Linked DNA regions of Homo sapiens: region 2 is linked to region 1. Evidence: fine-mapped expression QTL. Tissue or cell type: tibial nerve. Region 1 holds a variant in brackets; the other region holds the start of a gene. All regions are shown on one strand. Distances are from middle to middle.

Region 1 (11,065 bases):
CCTGTAATCCCAGCACTTTGGGAGACTGAGGCAGGTGAATCACCTAAGGCCAAGAGTTCAAGACAAGCCTGACGAACATGGTGAAACCCTGTCTCTACTAAAAATACAAAAATGGCTGGGTGTGGTGGCTCGTGCCTATAATCCCAACACTTTGGGAAGCCAAGGTGGGCCGATACTTGAGGTCAGGAGTTCGAGACCAGCCTGGCCAACATGATGAAACCCCATCTCTACTAAAAATACAAAAATTAGCCAGGTATGGTGGCATGCCCCTGTAATCCCAGCTACTAGGGAGGCTGAGGCAGGAGAATCGCTTGAAACCGGGAGGCGGAGGTTGCAGTGAGCTGAGATCATGCCATTGCACTCTAGCCTGACAGACCAAGACGCCATCTCAAAAAAAAAAAAAAAAAAAAAAAGAATTGATACTTGGAAGTCCAAAGTCAAATTTATATCACTGTGGCCAGGTGTGGTGGCTCAAGCCTAGGATCCCAGCATGTAAGGAGGCCAAGGTGGGAGGATCACTTGAGCTTAGCAGTTGGAAGGAAGTTACAGGGAGTTATGACTGTGTCACTGCATTCCCGCCTAGGCAACAGAGTGAGACCCTGTCTCTAAAAATTAAAACTAAAAAATAATTTATATCATTGCGTGATGAATATACCATGTCTTATTAGCTTGCTGCTTTGGTAAGGTAGATACTTTCTTAAAACCATTCTGATAATAGCGGTTGTTTTATTTGTTACTAAAGGGTTTAGGCCATGCAAATTAGCACCATCCGAAACTCAGATAACTCAAATTAAATAAAAAGTTTTGAAACACTTTATTTATTTATTTTTTATTATGTTATTTTATATTTTTATCATTATACTTTAAGTTCTAGGGTACATGTGCACAATGTGCAAGTTTGTTACATATGTATACATGTGCCATGTTGGTGTGCTGCACCCATCAACTCGTGATTTACATTAGGTATCTCTCCTAACGCTATCCCTCCCTCCTCCCCCCACCCCACATCAGGCCCTGGTGTGTGATATTCCTCTTCCTGTGTCCAAGTGTTCTCATTGTTCAATTCCCACCTATGAGTGAGAACATGCGGTGTTTGGTTTTCTGTCCTTGTGATAGTTTGCTCAGAATGATGATTTCCAGCTTCATCCATGTCCCTACAAATGACATGAACTCATCCTTTTTTATGATTGCATAGTATTCCATGGTGTATATGTGCCACATTTTCTTAATCCAGTCTATCATTGATGGACATTTGGGTTGGTTACAAGTCTTTGCTAGTGTGAATAGCACCACAATAAACATACATGTGCCTGTGTCTTTATAGCAGCATGATTTATAGTCCTTTGGGTATATACCCAGTAATGGGATGGCTGGGTCAAATGGTATTTCTAGTTCTAGATCCTTGAGGAATCGCCACATTGTCTTCCACAATGGTTGAACTAGTTTACAGTCCCACCAACAGTGTAAAAGTGTTCCTATTACTCCACATGCTCTCCAGCACCTGTTGTTTCCTGACATTTTAATGATCGCCATTCTAACTGGTGAGAGATGGTATCTCACTGTGGTTTTGATTTGCATTTCTCTGATGGCCAGTGATGATGAGCATCTTTTCATTTGTTGGCTGCATAAATGTCTTCTTTTGAGAAATGTCTGTTCATATCCTTCATACACTTGTTGATGGGGTTGTTTTTTTCTTGTAAATTCGTTTGAGTTCTTTGTAGATTCTGGATATTAGCCCTTTGTCAGATGAGTAGATTGCATAAATCTTCTCCCATTCTGTAGGTTGCCTGTTCACTCTGATGGTAGTTTCTTTTGCTGTGCAGAAGCTGTTTAGTTTAATTAGATCCCATTTGTCTATTTTGGCTTTTGTTGCCATTGCTTTTGGTGTTTTAGACATGAAGTCCTTGCCCATGCCTATGTCCTGAATGGTATTGCCTAGGTTGTCTTCAAGGGTTTTTATGGTTTTAGGTCTAACATTTAAGTCTTTAATCCATCTTGAATTAATTTTTGTATGAGGTGTAAGGAAGGGATCCAGTTTCAGCTTTCTACATATGGCTAGCCAGTTTTCCCAGCACCATTTATTAAATAGGGAATCCTTTCCCCATTTCTTCTCTTTGTCAGGTTTGTCAAAGATAAGATGGTTGTAGATGTGTGGCATTATTTCTGAGGGCTCTGTTCTGTTCCATTGGTCTATATCTCTGTTTTGGTACCAGTACCGTGCTGTTTTGGTTACTGTAGCCTTGTAGTATAGTTTGAAGTCAGGTAGCATGATGCCTCCAGCTTTGTTCTTTCGGCTTAGTATTGCCTTGGCAATGTGGGCTCTTTTTTGGTTCCATATGAACTTTAAAGTAGTTTTTTCCAATTCTGTGAAGAAAGTCATTGGTAGCTTGATGGTGATGGCATTGAATCTATAAATTACCTTGGGCAGTATGACTATTTTCATGATATTCATTCTTCCTATCCATGAGCATGGAATTTTCTTCCATTTGTTTGTGTCCTCTTTTATTTTGTTGAGCAGTGGTTTGTAGTTCTCTTTGAAGAGGTCCTTCACATCCCTTGTAAGTTGGATTCCTAGGTATTTTATTCTCTTTGAAGCAATTATGAATGGGCGTTCACTCATGATTTGGCTGTTTGTCTGTTATTGGTGTACAAGAATGCTTGTGATTTTTGCACATTGATTTTGTATCCTGAGACTTTGCTGAAGTTGCTTATCAGCTTAAGGAGATTTTGGGCTGAGACAATGGGGTTTTCTAAGTATACAATCATGTCATCTGCAAACAGGGACAATTTGACTTCCTCTTTTCCTAATTGGATACCCTTTATTTCTTTCTCCTGCCTGACTGCCCTAGCCAGAGCTTCCAACATTATGTTGAATAGGAGTGGTGAGAGAGGGCATCCCTGTCTTGTGCCAGTTTTCAAAGGGAATGCTTCCAGTTTTTGCCCATTCAGTATGATATTGGCTGTGGGTTTGTCATAAAGATCTCTTATTATTTGGAGATACGTCCCATCAATACCTAATTTATTGAGAGTTTTTAGCATGAAGCGTTGTTGAATTTTGTCAAAGGCCTTTTCTGCATCTATTGAGATAATCATGTGGTTTTTGTCTTTGGTTCTGTTTATATGCTGGATTACGTTTATTGATTTTCATATGTCGAACCAGCCTTGCATTCCAGGGTTGAAGCCCACTTGAACATGGTGGATAAGCTTTTTGATGTGCTGCTGGATTTGGTTTGCCAGTATTTTATTGAGGATTTTTGCATTGATGTTCATCAGGGATATTGGTCTAAAATTCTCTTTTTTTGTTGTGTCTCTGTCAGGCTTTGGTATCAGGATGATGTTGGCCTCATAAAATGAGTTAGGGAGGATTCCCTCTTTTTCTATTGATTGGAATCGTTTCAGAAGGAATGGTACCAGCTCCTCCTTGTACCTCTGGTAGAATTCGACTGTGAATCTGTCTGGTCCTGGACTTTTTTTGGTTGGTAGTCTATTAATGATTGCCTCAATTTCGGAGCCTGTTATTGGTCTATTCAGGGATTCAACTTCTTCCTGGTTTAGTCTTGGGAAGGGGGTATGTGTCCAGGAACTTATCCATTTCTTCTAGATTGAAACACTATTTTTTCACCAAACGTGTATTGAACTCTTGGAGGAGAAAAAAATAGAGAAGAAGTATTCTTGCCCTCAAGGAGATCAGATTAGGGATAAAAGAAGAAAACAAAAACAAAAACAACCAAATATAATGTACCTGTCTACTAGGAACAATCAGGCCTTAGGAGCTGGAAAATCTTCACCAAATCCAATATGGAAATTAGAAAGAAAGTGGCATTCTGACCCTCAGTTCTGTAAACTCAAACACAGATTTTGGCACTAGGCTGATAATAAACTTTTTTAATAAAATCAGAATGCAATGCCATTTTTAAGGGCAAGTAATAGAACTGCTGCTGGGCCTCCATAATTTCTTGGGGAATACCTTCTCTTCTAGTAGTCAGATTTGTGCTCAAGCCTAAATTGTAAATAAAGGAACATAGATAGGGGGCGTCTAGTCATCTTCCCAACAGAAATACTGTAAATGGGGCTTTAGACTTGAGTATTTGCCCAAGAAATGCATGAATGGATACTACAAGGATAACTTCTCTGACCTTCTGCCACCAATTTTAATTAGCTCATTCTTTAGGTATGTTAATACTTCCTAGAAAACTAGCTGTTTTTCAAATTATAAACTATTTCATATGTACAGAATATAACAAGGATTTCATGTACCACACACATAAGGTGTTAATATTTTACCATATTTGTTTCCAGAGTTTTTTTTTTTTTTTTTGAGACAGGGTCTCGCTTTGGCACCAAGGCTGGAGTGCCATGGCATGATCATAGCACACTGCAGCCTTGAACTTCTGGCCTCAAGCAATCCCCCTGCCTCAGCCTCCCTAAGTGCTGGGATTACAGATGTGCACCACTATGCCAGCCTCTTTCAGATTTTAAGAAATAAAACACTATAAATAGAAGGAAAGCTTCATCTCCTTATCTTTCTCTCATCATCACCACCTTTTTTCTCCTCAGTTTAAACAACTATCCTAAGGTAAATATGAATCATTTCCAAGTACTTTTTACAAATCTGACTACATATGAATATATCCATACATAATTATGTCATTTCATAAATGGTACTACACTGTTCATATCCATTTGCAACTTGAGGTTTTCTCTCAACTTACTGGATGCGTTGAGGCACATCCATATCTCTATGTCTTGCTGCATTTGCCATAGTGCACACAGCAGAAAAGTGGACGAAGCTGAACTCTACCTCAGGAGGGGAGTAGACTATTTCTTTAAGACAACTGCAAATCTCTCCTCTAATCCTTCATGTCATGACTTTTTCCCCACTCTTCCAGTAAGCTTTTATTATCACTTAAGTCATGATTCAGGGTCCCACGATGAGCTCCATGTACCCAAGTCCCCCTTTATCACCCTGGGAGAAGGACTTAGGACCGAGGAAAAGTGGGGCAGAACTCATTCTCATCTTTCCAGGAATTGTGGCTTCTGCCCCGTGGTCACCCCAGGTTAAGACCCAGAATATGATGCTGGGGGATTTGTACACATTCCCACTACCATTTGCACCCAGAGACATCACTCTCTTCAGACATCATTACCTTTCCACAGTGGTAGAAATCTGGGTAGTTCTGCCAGCAGTTCCTGAACTGGCTCTGGTTGGGGAAGCAGCTGTCAAAAGCGGCAGTTCTGTAGTTCTTGACATGGGTCTCGATATATTCTGCTATGTTGCTAACTCCTAAAGATGCCCCTGAGATACCTCTCAGCTCAGTGTGACCCTCAGCAAAGACTATCATGATTTTTTAATTTACTGGGCAGAGAGAAATCTTATTATCAAACTCTTGAAAGAAATAGCATTTTTGTCAATGGTACTATTCACACAAGTAACACTTGCAAAAGGTCAGGGAAAATGAGTTGTGTACATTAATAGCCAGGAAAAGATTAAAATTGAAAAGATGGCCCTACATGTCTTGGGAAAATTTTCTTCAAACTACTGATGTGTGAAACATTTTTAGAATGTTGTTGTGTTTGAAAAAGCTCATTGAAAATACCTGGAGAAATTTTTGAAAGGCAAAGAGTTAGAAAATGAACTAACGTGATATAAAGTTAAAAAGCTTTTGCTGAGCAAAGGATACAGTCAACAAAGTGAAGAGACAACCCACAGAATAGGAGAAAATATTTGCAAACTACCCCTATGATATCCAAGTTGTAAGACAAACTCCTCTTTACTCTTCCCTCTCCTCTCCCCAAGCAAAAGAAAGAACTCTCTTCTGGGGCTGTGAGCTGTGCTGCCTTGGTATGCGGGGAGGGGTGACACACACACTCCCTTGGCCACCTGGGCTGGTGTCTCACTAGGTCATATGCCTGCCAAATCTACTGACTCTGCGCCCAGCACAGCACCAGGACTTGCCCAGGAATCACAGTTCTTGCGGCTTAGACTACCTTTCAACTTTATTTAGGACCCAGAGCGCTTTAGTCCACAGTGCCGAGGCTTGCCAGAACACAGGTTCTGACTACTGGGATAGGCTACCCGCTCTGGATAGGGCTGGTCTAAATGCTCCCTCCATGGGTGGTGGCTGAGTTCTGTCCCGTGTTGCTTTTCACTGTGACAAGGTAGCACCGAGTTCCAATGCAAAGTCCACAGATGCTGCATTCTCCCACCCCCAAGGGCACAGGCTGTCTTTGTACCATGTGGCCGCTGCTGAGGAATGCTGGAAGAGCATTGTCAGCAATTTAAGGCTGTCTTTCTTATCCTATTCAGTGCCTCTTTGGGTAATGTGAGGTTAAAACCAGGTACTATGATCATGCACCTGCTTGTTTGTCATGA[A/G]GGTGCTTTTTGTGTAGATAGTTGTTAAAGTTGGTGTTCCTGCAGGGAAGACTATTGGTGGAGGCTTCTATTCAGCCATCTTGCTCAGCCTCCACAAATGCTTTCTGTGAATTTTTTTAAAGCAGTCAGACATAGAGAGAATAAAACAGTGATTACCAGGGTTGGAGTGTGGGATAGGAATTGGGAAGATATTAGGCCAAAGGATACAAATTAGCAAATATATACGATGAACAAATGGAAAGATCTAATATACAATGTGAGGACTATAGTCAATAATAGAATGTTATATTCAGGATTTTTTCTAAATGAGTAGATTATAGCTACTCTTGCCATAGGGGGATAAAGGAGTAACTGTGTGAGACGATGGATATGTTCCTTTGTTCCACTATAGTGACCTTTTTACTGTATATGTGCATCTTATAACATCATGTTCCATATCTTAAATACACATAATGATTTTTTTTAAAGAGTCAGCCTTTTCCAGGATGTGGGAAAGGATTTGCTTGCAGCAGCTAAGTAACATGACATACTGTACGTAGTTGTTGGCCAGGATAATTACACAGCAAATCACTTATGTGGAAAAATACTCAGTAGACGAATACAAAGAGACAGGAGCCACTTGATGAGCATAGCAAAACAAGCTGTGAAAAATAAATACACATACACACGCTCTGCTCTAATGTTCTTAAAATCCCCCCCGTCACACACTGCAGTTCCCTGTTTGGCCATCTCAGCTGCCCTAAAGCTGGCTAGAAAAATGATGGGCAATTAGAACGCTGCTCAGCAAACCAATTACAAAAAGAAATAAGATTAGAGTATGGACATGTTTGGAAGAAGATTTAGGGGAAATCTTTCTAGTTTGAAATGGTGAATATTAAAGATGGAGCAGTTCCCACAATCATTTGAGTCTATTTTTTATTGAAATTATAATAACAAATTAGCTTTGCTAATCTTATTTCATTTACTACAACAAACCCTATGAAATTTTTGCTGCTCATGGTATAATTGTCCTTATCTTTGAGATGGGTAAACCAGATCATTCAGAGTGATGTAAGAGGGATTTATCCAAGACTACATGCCAGTGAGTGGGAGAGCTCAAGGCTCAATCTCAGACCTTTTTTTTTTTTTTTTGGTGCAGTGATGTGATCATAGATGACTACAGCCTAGAACTCCTGGCCTCAACCACCCACAGTGCTGGGATTCCAAGTGTGAGCTACCATGGCCAGCCAATCTCACGTCTTCTGACTCCAGCTACTATGGCATTTCCGCGACACTATGCCTTTTCTTGCCAGTGATGAGTGAGGTCAGCTGCTATCCAGTAAACGAAATGGCTCCAGTTTTTCATTTCCTCTTGATTGTCTTGTCTAGTGGTTGCATTAAATCTGGAAGTACTTGGTCCTGTCTGCCTCCAGCCTACTGTTCCCCTGACTCCTGATAAGTGACTAAACAAAATGACAAGTACAAGGGGATTTCCAGTGCTACTGGCTTGTTTCTGTGTGGTCTTTGATTTTTCAAGAGTAATGAGCAAAAAAAAAACAGAAAAGAAAAAAGAAAAAAATGTCTCTTATATATGCCATCTAAATTTCTCTCCCTTTCTTTCCATGTGTACTTACATAGAAATACCAGTTGCTGTGTTTGCACAGCACCCAGCTGATAATAGCGAAAGCCTCTCATTCTTCACACCCATTTCCCAGGCTCTTTAATGTGGGCTCAAGGGAAGGGCACCTCCCCTGCAGTTTAAGCGTGATCCAAGTGGAATGATTCACACCAGGCCCTGCTCTTCTTTTCAATGTAAGTAAATCTGATGTGTATCTTACAGAAACTGTTATTGGCAAGAATTCCTCCCCTGTCCCACTCATGTTCTATATTCATATTTCTGAGGATATTCACAGATCTCTACCCATATTTAAGTTAAGGGAAGTGCATCTTAAAGCTTCTTAAATCTATGAGAGACCTAAGATCCTGGGCCAGAGACTGACCAGAAACAAGCAGGACATAGGGTCTGAAGAAGCACATTCCTCCCTCAGGTCCTCCGCACACCTTCCTTCCCCTTTGATGGGACAATCAGGAGGCAGTGTCACATCTGTCCTTACTGAGTTCTTGCTAGTTTTTTTTAAATCTATTTATTTATTTATTTATTGACTGGATTATGAGACCAGCTAATTTTTGTATTTTTGGTAGAGAGGGGATTTTTACCATGTTGACAAGTCTGGTCTTGAACTCCTGGGCTCAAGCTATTCTCCTGCCTCAGCCTCCTGAGTAGGCGGGGCTACAGGTGCATGCCACCATGCCCGGCTAATTTAGAGATGGGGTTTCACTATGTTGGCCAGGCTGGTCTTCAACTCCTGACCTCAAGTGATCCACCAGCCTCGATCTCCCAAAGTGCTGGGATTACAAGCGTGAGCCACCGCACCCAGCTCCATTAGTTTTTGAGTTTGTAATCTTAATTACAGTATAGTCATATAAACATTAGTTTTTCTTCATGAAATAACTGTGATTGAAAGTCGTTTCTTCCCCTGACTATACACTATGCTTTCAGGTTATACTTGTGTTTTGCTGTTGTTGTTCTTGCTGCTGATGCTTTATGGATTTCAAAATGACGGAAAAGGAAAACAGCATAGGGAAGCTGATCCTCTTCCACACCCAGAGGGCCATTCTGCTGCCTCTCTTCCAGACACAAAAGGAGACAGAGCAGACATTCATGTGGCTGAATTCCTAATTTTCCATTATAGCTGCCAGCATGTGTGAAAACAAGCATAAAAACCAAAGACTTACCTTAATCTTCATTTCAGTCTATTTGGCATTTCTTGCACTTCCAAGTCTGAGGGATGAGTTATCTACCACAGCTAGGAAAATTTATCTCTATGCATTTACATTTGAACATTTTTACCAACTAAATAAAAGATAGATTGCTCTTAACTACTGCAAAAAGATGATTACTTTTTTCTAATATATGACTAAAATTTCTGCCCTATCTAGTTTTTTACATAGAAAGGTTAATTTCTATGAATCATTGCAAAGATAAAAATAAATTTTGATTAAAAATATTTATTCAATGGAAATACTATAAAGGGAGGATTTTAATATTGTTTCTACTGATGTAACTTGTCTTAATGGAAAACATCAGTGGATCATGGCTTTGGGAATCTCAGACTCATAATAATTACCACCTGTTTTGTGTTTGCAACGTGCCAGACACGGTAGTAGAGACCAGGATTTCAGAAATAAGTTAGATGTAATTCTGTCCCCAAATAATTTATGCCTAATAATAAAAACAGGTTTATGTCCACTTTGGATGAAATGAGTTGCTCTCATTCTGTTGCTCAGGCTGAAGTGCAGTGGCACAATCTCATCTCACTGCAATCTCATTGTTCCAGGTTCAAGTGATTCTTGTGCCTCACCCTCCCGAATAGTTGGGATTATAGATGTGCACCAACACACCCACTAATTTTTGTATTTTTAGTAGAGACAAGGTCTTGCCATGTTGGCCAGGCTGGTCTCAAACTCCTGGCCTCACGTGATCCACCCACCTCAGCCTCCCAAAGTGCTGGGATTACAGTCATGAGCCACTGTGCCCAGCTGGAAGCCAAGATTTTAATGCAAAATAAGAATTATCTAGGGTGAAGCTACAATATTGTGAAGGGAGTACAGAGCTGGCTTGAGATTAGAAAGGTTTTCTAGAGAGGTCACCCTCTCTAGAGTCAGTTTCAAAGTTGGGTAATACCAAGTGATTAACAAATACATCAACAGTTAAGGGCAGTTTAGGTGAACAGACTATGTGCAGATCATCTAACATAGTCACTGAAGATTAAGTAAGAATAAGAAATAGGCCTTGCTAAGCACTATAGGGAGGGAAGACAACCTAACCGATAATTATGTTAAGTATTATAACAGAAGCGAGCACAATGTCCAAAAACTGCATAGAGGCGGGTATTTCACTCAGCTCTGCAGATCAGAAAGGCTTCCCAGAACAGTAATGCTTTAGCTGAATCTTAATGAATAAGGATTTTTCCTGTGGTCAGAGAAGTGGGAAGGAAAGGACAGTTAAGGAGAGATTATACAGAAGATATTGGAAATGGAATGGATAATTTGTGCTCAGTCATTCGGCACTCACTATGTGCTAGACACTGGATGTTATCACAAGATGGGGTGGAGATTGATCTTGGACAAGACATACAGCAGCCAGATCATCTTTTTAAAAAGTAAATCACATCATTTTACTCTCCTATTCAACAACCTCCAAAGTGTGCTCCCCTTGCAAGCATAATAACTATTGTGGGTTCTTAGCATGACCCACACTGTCCAATATGATCAGTTCCCAAAAAATTTCGACAAGCTCACCTCCTGCCACATGCACTTACTCCCTCTGGCATTTTTTCTGTTTTGTAGGACAAACCTTTGGCTTCCCCAGGGGATTTTCTCCCTCCACCTGGAATGCTCATTCCTCATCATTTAGGTCTTAGCTCAGATGCTTTCAGAAGCCTTTCATTATCACCATATGAGAGTAACCCTCTTCCCCCAACGCCCTGCCTTAGACAATCTCAGTCTCATCTCCCTGTTTTTCGTTGTTGTTTTTTTTTCCTTTTTTTTTTTTTTTTTTGAGATGGAGTTTCACTCTTGCCACCCAGGCTGGAGTGCAATGGCACCATCTTGGCTCACTTCAACCTCCACCTCCTAGGTTCAAGTGATTCT
Region 2 (7,794 bases), 160 kb after region 1:
ATTCATATCGCATATATGCAATCTTTGATTAAAATAATGGCTCATCTTTCTTATTACCACCAGCGTTATCATGAGTACAGATATTCCTATGTATTTTTTTTAGCACTTTTATCACCCAAGGTTATGATCAAAACAAACTGAAAGCCATTTAAAGGAGCTGTGGGGCATAAGTAAGCATTTCCCTAATAAAACAAATCAATTCCCATTGCAAAAACTTGTATTATATGAGAAATGCCCGTTTCCACACAGCTACATAACCTCTTTAAGAGCCAGAGTCATGAAGGTCTGTTCATTGTTCTATTCGCAGGGTTGGCACAGTTACTGACACATAAAAACACATTACTGCTAATGGCAAAAACAGCAATTACTTTTGCACCAAACTAATAGTAAACAATAAATGTTTAGTAAGCAAATAAAAATAACTATGTCCTACTTCCTCTGAGTTTCTAACTAAAACAAAGAGTAAATTACTGAAATAGAAACTTCAAATCTCAAAATGAACAAATACCACTGGTACCACTGCCACAATATAAGTATTTAATTTTGTTAACATTAAAAAAGTCTACACAGCTCTATAAAATGACAAATCCTGTGAACTCTCTCTCACATACAAACCAAGAGAATATTTTGTGATTTCAACCCCCTTACTGGAAACTAGTGAAATAAAATTAGTAACATACCAGGTTGGTTACAGAAAAGTTAGCAGTTAACACAGCATGATTTCGGCTGATCGACTGATCATTTTCAATCAGAATGGCACAGTTTTTCCTTCCAACAACGTACTCAACGCCAGTCAAAAGTCTGTATGGTTCTCCTGAGATAAATTTTTTTTTAAAAAAAGATAAGTTGATAGACACATACACATGTACACGAACACACACATACATGTAAGTGTATATGATATAGGTATGACAAATATTAAATAAAACACCTTTGTTATTCAAATGTTAGTCAACTTTACATATGTCAAACTTGTGTTTTCAGTAAAGCCTCACTGAAGGCTATCAAAGGTTATCTAACTATGGTGTTTCAGGAGTAACAACAACAAAATTTAAAATACAATAAAAAAGAGAAAAAGAAAAAAAGGTTATCTAAACAGATAGAAGGCTACATCATTTTTCTAAAGGGAAAGCAATGCTGAAAGGAGTCAATGTTCCCTCAAATTAACTTAAAAACTTAATGTATTACCTAGCAACAATCACAATATTATGTTTGGAACTTGATAAACAAAAATATCAGGAAACTATAAAAAAAGATGCTCAAGCCTGTAATCCCAGCTACTTGGGAGGCTGAAGCAAGAGAACTGCTTGAACCCAGGGGATGGAGGTTGCAGTGAGCCGACACAGTGCCACTGCACTCCAGCCTCGGTGACAGAGTGAGACTCCGTCTCAAAAAAAAAAAAAAATCAAGAAAAATGTGAATAATATAATAGGAGCTTGCCCTACCAGATGGCAAAATATGCCATAAAACTAAAAGTATGGTACTGGACCATGAGTAAACAACACAGACCAATGCAACAAAGTCCAGACTAAGATGCACGTGTACATTTTTTGAAAATTTGTTTTTATCTTAAAGATAACATCTCCAATCAGTGGGAAAGGGTTATCAGTTTCTTTTAAAATTGCTGTAAATCATAAGTTGTTGGAGTAACAGTATATATATTGGAGACATGCGGAGTTGAGTCTGGGAGCATAATTTCATTACCCGAGTGGCAGGGAGATTAGGGCAGATAAAGAGTAGGGAGTCCAGAAGAGCCAGGTCTCCAGGGACGCCTTGACCTGTGAGTCTTCACAGTATAAAATTTATTTAGTTTGGCGCTCTCCATACTCTCTTACCCTGCCAGTCCATTTAGTCTCTACATAGATCTTTGCCAATCATCATGTAAACTTCCCGAGGACAAGACCCTTCACACCCACCACGGGCAACCAATTAACATGTGATCACATTTCACACCGCTGGAAATGAATGGGAAAAAATCGACTTTTCCCATTGTTCTGATGACATTGTGGAAAAGGAGTCTGAAACAAAACTGAAAGTAAGCCTTTTCGTGGTAGTCATTTCCCCAAACTGTCCAGTAGTTCTTCACAAGTCATGTGTGGCCCCCGTGTGGTCCGCCCATGCTAACTTCCTGCCGGGGGTTCCCACTAGGCGCCTGCTGCCGCTTACCCGCAGGCCATCCAGCCCTAGCGCTGCAACGGCGCGGGGGTGAGGCTGGGAGGGAGGGGGAGTCAGGGGAGGGGCGCGGAGGACTGCCACCAGGGGGCGCCGCAATCACCCCACCGCCCGCGCTGAATTCCAGCTCACAGCCGCCGTGCTGCCCGGGAAGAATATGCGCTTGCCATACAGCGTACTCGCCGCTTCTGCGACCGCTTCCGCAGCGTCCCCGGGCAGGAACGGACGCGACGCAGGAATCACCCGCAGGCCCTCCCCCGAGGCAGTCGCTACCGGGAAAATAGGCCCCGAGGCTTCCCTTCTGCCCTTACCTCCTGCCGGGCCCGCGGCGGGCAGCAGTTTCCACATCGGTCCGGCTCCTCAGGGCTGGGGCCGACGTGCAACCGCGTAACCGGGGCTGCTAGACGAGCGCGGATACGGCGCCTGCGGTCGGCATGGGCTCCGGGACGTGCGCGCTCCCGGGAGCCACGCAGGCTGCCTTGGATGAGGCGGGAGTGCGACTTGGGCGCTTGCCCGCCACCTGGTGGTTGGAAAAGGAACAGCACAATCTGTATTGAAATGTGCTGCGTTAAAAGGGTATGTTTCTAAGGTGTCGCTGAATGTAAGGTTACTACCTTTCCTGATTATGAACGAAAAGAATTTTAAAAACTAACTCCAAAGCAACATAAGGAAAATTTTTAATTAAATGCATTAAAATACTTACCAGTTATGTAGTTTCGTGCGTTTGCAGTTTCTTAAATTGCAGGTATTCCTTTGGAATCTAGTAATGGTGATAATAATGATGAAGATAAGGATTTCACCTCGAAGTAAACTCATTATTTTTACTCTTTTCTAAGTTCAAATCAACTTGTCTTAACGTCTTTATTTCATAATGCCACACTTTCAGCTAATCACATGCTAAATACTGGGCAGTCTCCTGTATTTAATACCCTTCCTTTCCACTTCCACCTGTCTCAAGCTGGTTCAAGCTCTCCTCCTAATTCCAGTAGCTTCCCAACCCATCACCACCCACGTCCCACATAATGTAGTCTACATCCTGCGCACTACTAAATAAACATCTGAGAGCACACTCCTGATCACATACATTTTGGCTTTCAAAAGCATTCTGTAATAGGGGGGAAAAGTCACTTTAAAAAGGCTTGTTTAGGCCCAGCACCATGGCTCGCTCCTTTAATCCCAGCAGTCTGGGAGGCCAAGATGGGAGGATCACTTGAGGCCAGGAGTTCAAGATCAGCATGGGCAACATGGCAAGACCCTGTCTTTATAAAAAATTTTAAAGTTAGCAGGGCTTGGTGCCATGCTCCTGTATTCCCAGCTACTCAGGAGGCTGAGGCAGAAGGATCACTTGAGCCCAGGAGTTCGATGCTGCAGTGAGCCATGATCATGCCACTGCACTCTAGCCTGGGCGATAGAGCAAGACCCTGTCTCAAAAAAAAAAAAAAAAAAAGGCTGGTTTACCAATCTCTTATCATCATAGATGCAAACTCCTAAGCACAATATTAGCAAATTGAATCAAGTAGTAGTATAAAAAGAATAATCATAACTAAGTGAGATTTATCCAGAAACAAAAGGGTGGGTTAACATTGGGGGAAAAAATAAATGTAATTCATCATAATAATTTTAAATAGGAGAAAAATCATGATTATCTTGATAGTAGCAAAGAAATTGATAAAATTAAGCACCCATTTAGGATAAAAACCTCTCTGCAAAGTAGGAATAGAGAAAACATCCATGATCTGATAAAGGACATTTACAAAAAAAACTACAGTTTACGTTATACTTAAGGTAAATTATTGAACATTTCCCCATGACATCAGTAATGAAACAAGGATGTACACGCTCTTACCACTTATTTTCAGCATGGCTTTAGATGCTCTAGCCAATGCAATAAAGGAGAAAGAGTAACAAAAGACATTCAGATTGGAAAGGAAGAAATAACAGTCATTATTCACAAATTACACGATTGCCTATATTGAAAATCAAAAAAACTGTTGGCAAACTATTTTAATTAATAAATGAATTTAATAAGGTTATAGATACAATATCTAGATACAAAATTTAATTGTATACCTTTATTCCAGAAAATAAATAGAAAATTACATGTTTAATTATAATGGCACCAAAATAATCGAGTGCTTGGTAATACATCGATCAAACTATGTAATACAAAACATGATTGACTACATAACATTATTGACAGAAAGTTTAAAAAGTCCTAAATAAATGCAAGGATAATGGATCATGTTCACAGATTGTTAAGATGTCATTTCCCCCAAAATTGTTCTATAGATTCAATGTAACTTCAGCAATCTCAAATGCTTTTTTTGAGTAGAAATGGATGAGCAGATTCTAACATTTATATGGAAATGCAAATGCCTAGAATAGCCAAGGCAATTTTGAAGAACAAAGCTGGAATATTTAAATTATGAAATACTAAGATCTATTATAAAGTTACAGTTATTAAGTCAGTGTTTGCTTGGTACAAGGATAGAAAACAGGCAAATGAGTCAGAATAGAGGGACCTAAAAAAAGTGGACACATAAGGTAATTTGATTTTTCGAAGGTGATTACAGGGCAACAAAGGAAAGTCTCATGTGACCCCACCCCACCCCACAAATAAATGATCCCGTTTATTAACGTGACACAAGAAATGTGTTAACATAACACAGGAAATGAAGACTGATCCCCCTAATTCATTTAGATGAATTAGAATTCATCTAAATTCCAGATGAATCATTATTTACATAGGAAAGTAAAATAATAAATATTAGTGGAAGAAAACATGATTTCAAAGTAGGCAGATCTTTCTTAAGTAGGACACACAAAAGTATGCCCTGCATCATAGAATCCCTAAATTTCACTGATTTAGTGAAGCATCAACATTTTGCAGGAATTTTCTTCCACATTCTGAAGTATACATATCTCACCAAGGCCTCCAACCTGTTTGCCAAATCCTTACTCATCCAATCTGGTGAGCATAATACCATCACTGTAGTAGAACAGTGGATGTTCTGCAGCATGTCCAGACACTTCAGGTCTCTTGGGAATACATTATGATAGAGGTTAAGGAGATACAGCTTAGCTCTGGGTCAACATTGCAAGTATTTTCTATTATTTTTTCTAATTAAATATGAGCACTTTTGGATTCTACTTTCTGTTAAGGTTGGGGAAGCACATGTCATCATATCAATCACCCCAAACCTGTTGCCTGAGGTCATGTTGTTCTGCTCTTGTAAAGATTTCACATCTGGTACAGCAGCTCTAATTGGGGTTATTACTTTGTTGATTGCAGTAGTCGGCTGTTTATTCTCCAGGAACTGTTAGGCTTTTGTAGGTCAAGTATGATGAATTAAATGGAGATAAAAAGGGAGCCAAAAAGAAAGCACTAATATCTATCATTCCCCTATATTGTTCTTGCTCACTGTCATGGCTGTACAATTTGAGGCTGCTCCCTGTTGGCCTTGCCCGCGTTGATAGTTCTTACCCTACAGGCCAAGGAGCTGAGGTGGGTATTGTAAGAACTACCAAGGATGTTCATTTCAATTATATATTTGGGAACTAGGAAAATGACCACCACGTAAGTCTATGTGTTCGGTGGACCCACTGTATGCCAGACCTGGACAAGGACTCCCTTAACTCTCTGGCTTCTGAATACCTCTGCTTTAACCAGGAGTCATAATATTTTGGGTTCATGGGTATCAATAATGATCATGTCCCACAGCCCTCCAAGTATTTGGGCATTCTCTTTTCCTCAGTGTATGATTTTCCAAGCGAATGGCTATAGGTCCCTTAAGGGAAAGACTGAGAGTAGGGTGGGGTGCGGGGAGGTCATTACCATATATTCTTGCTATGGGATTGCAGGGTCCTTCTTACTGGCAGTCCTGCCTCTCCACCAGTCAATGGGTTCTGGATTGGCAAAGTGGCTCAAATCAGGAAATTCGGAAAGAGACTGTGACTTTTTGTTGAGGCTGCTGCTCTGAGCCTTGTGTCTTCCATTCTTGATACCTGTTCACTGAACAGATTGAGTTTACTCTTGGTTAACTGTCTTTCCCCACAGGGGTGCCTTATTCTATTAAGCATCTTTTAAGCTCACTCTGGGTCGAGAGCTCTGCTGCCACTTCAATCTTGCCACTCAAGATAATTATACCATTCGGATGGTTAAGTACCACCAGCTGGCCTCTATCATTTCAGGATTCTATTATCCCCAGTCCTATCTGGGAACTCAATTCCATAACAGCATCTTTTATCATCAACCATGACCTACAGAGGAGACCTACCACTGAGCTTCTCAGTGATGCTGGTACCCTTCTCACCAGAGAATTCCATGTCTCTTTAATAAATGGCACATCTGAACTGGAATTTTGACATCTGGGGGGTTTCCAGCCCTACATAATATGGCCACTGTAGCATACCCATTTCCCTGAGCAGTTTGATCCCTACTTCTACCATCTGCCATGGCAGCTGTGGCATTTTTACTTCTCTTAGCGTGGGCCACCACTTTTCCACAAACTTCTAAAAGCCGTCATAGAAGCATGATAGCAATGTTTCCCAGAGTCCTTGCTGGAATGTTCGATCCTCTCTCCCTGGAGACTGCTCTCAAATCAATAAACTCTCTCATACAAATTTACTTTCCACTCTCCTTTTGTTCAGCATCCTCAGAAGGCAGTCCCATCAGTACTGTCTTGTTCCAGCTGCTTCATGTTGGCAGGGTTCTACAGCTCCTTCTGGGTAAAGCCACCTCCTTCCTTTATCAGGCCCAGTTCTTCCCTGCTGGGAAATACTATAACTTAGCCCAACTTATTGTCTGATTGCCAGGATGAAAGATGGTAGTGGCAGAGTGATGAAGGAAAACAGATCCCACAATTTCTATCTGTTGCTTGGTAACAACACAGGTCTAATAATCAGAGCCCAGAAAAAAATTGAAGAGGAGCATGATGCAAATAGGGTTTGCTTTTGGTAGCAAATTGGTCTGCTTATTGCTCCATGCTCCCTGCTTCTTGTACCTTGCTGGCATCTCCTCTCACCTCTGTCATGGTATAAACAAACTCTTCTAAATCTTTAGGGTCTTGACAGAGTCTTCCCTTTACATCTTGCCTTAAATGAAACTTTGCTGTCACCCTAGACCACAGCTTCCCATGACAGGTTCTAGGCTAGTTTGCTCCAATGCCTCTCCCACTCATATCCAGTACAGCTGTGGGCCACTAGGGTTACTACTTCCCCCTAAACTTTACTTTCCATTTTAGTGTATTACTCTTCCCTACTTTGCAAAACCTCTCCTTGGTCAGGATCATTTCGTGTAACTATCCACCCTCTAGACCTTCTTTTTCTATTACCTACTGCAGGTATGACCATGTCACTTGCCCATATTCACTAAGGACACTGTCACATATGTGAGAGATTTTGCTCCATCCCAACTCTTGCCATCACTCTCAACTACACTGAAAACTCATTCTACATGCTAGGCTCACTATTCTTCAACTGTCTCAGCTTCTGTGACTTTCATCTCTACTCCACACATACCACCCTCTCAGTTGGCCACACTTTCGATCTTCACATCATCAGAACCTTCTTCACCCTTATTTTCCTGCTTTATAACTGGAGCTGCCTGGCCTTCCCACTTCC

What was found. PIP is the estimated chance that this variant, and not a neighbour inherited with it, causes the effect.
Region 2: NBN starts here. The variant in region 1 is fine-mapped to the expression of NBN in tibial nerve (GTEx, PIP above 0.99).

The regions. Positions count from the first base shown.
Region 1 is chr8:89,818,528-89,829,592 of GRCh38, forward strand. It overlaps the pseudogene COX6B1P6. Among named protein-coding and RNA genes, the nearest start is that of RIPK2, 66 kb to the left of the region's middle. RefSeq lists an enhancer at 7,729-7,858. The variant A/G (reference allele first, on the strand shown) is at 6,374.
Region 2 is chr8:89,982,042-89,989,835 of GRCh38, forward strand. NBN (nibrin) reads right to left here and starts at 2,626. Exons shown (of 16, transcript NM_002485.5): 1 at 2,484-2,626; 2 at 681-814. The coding sequence starts at 2,520. RefSeq lists enhancers at 1,719-2,058, 2,190-2,986 and a silencer at 2,179-2,378.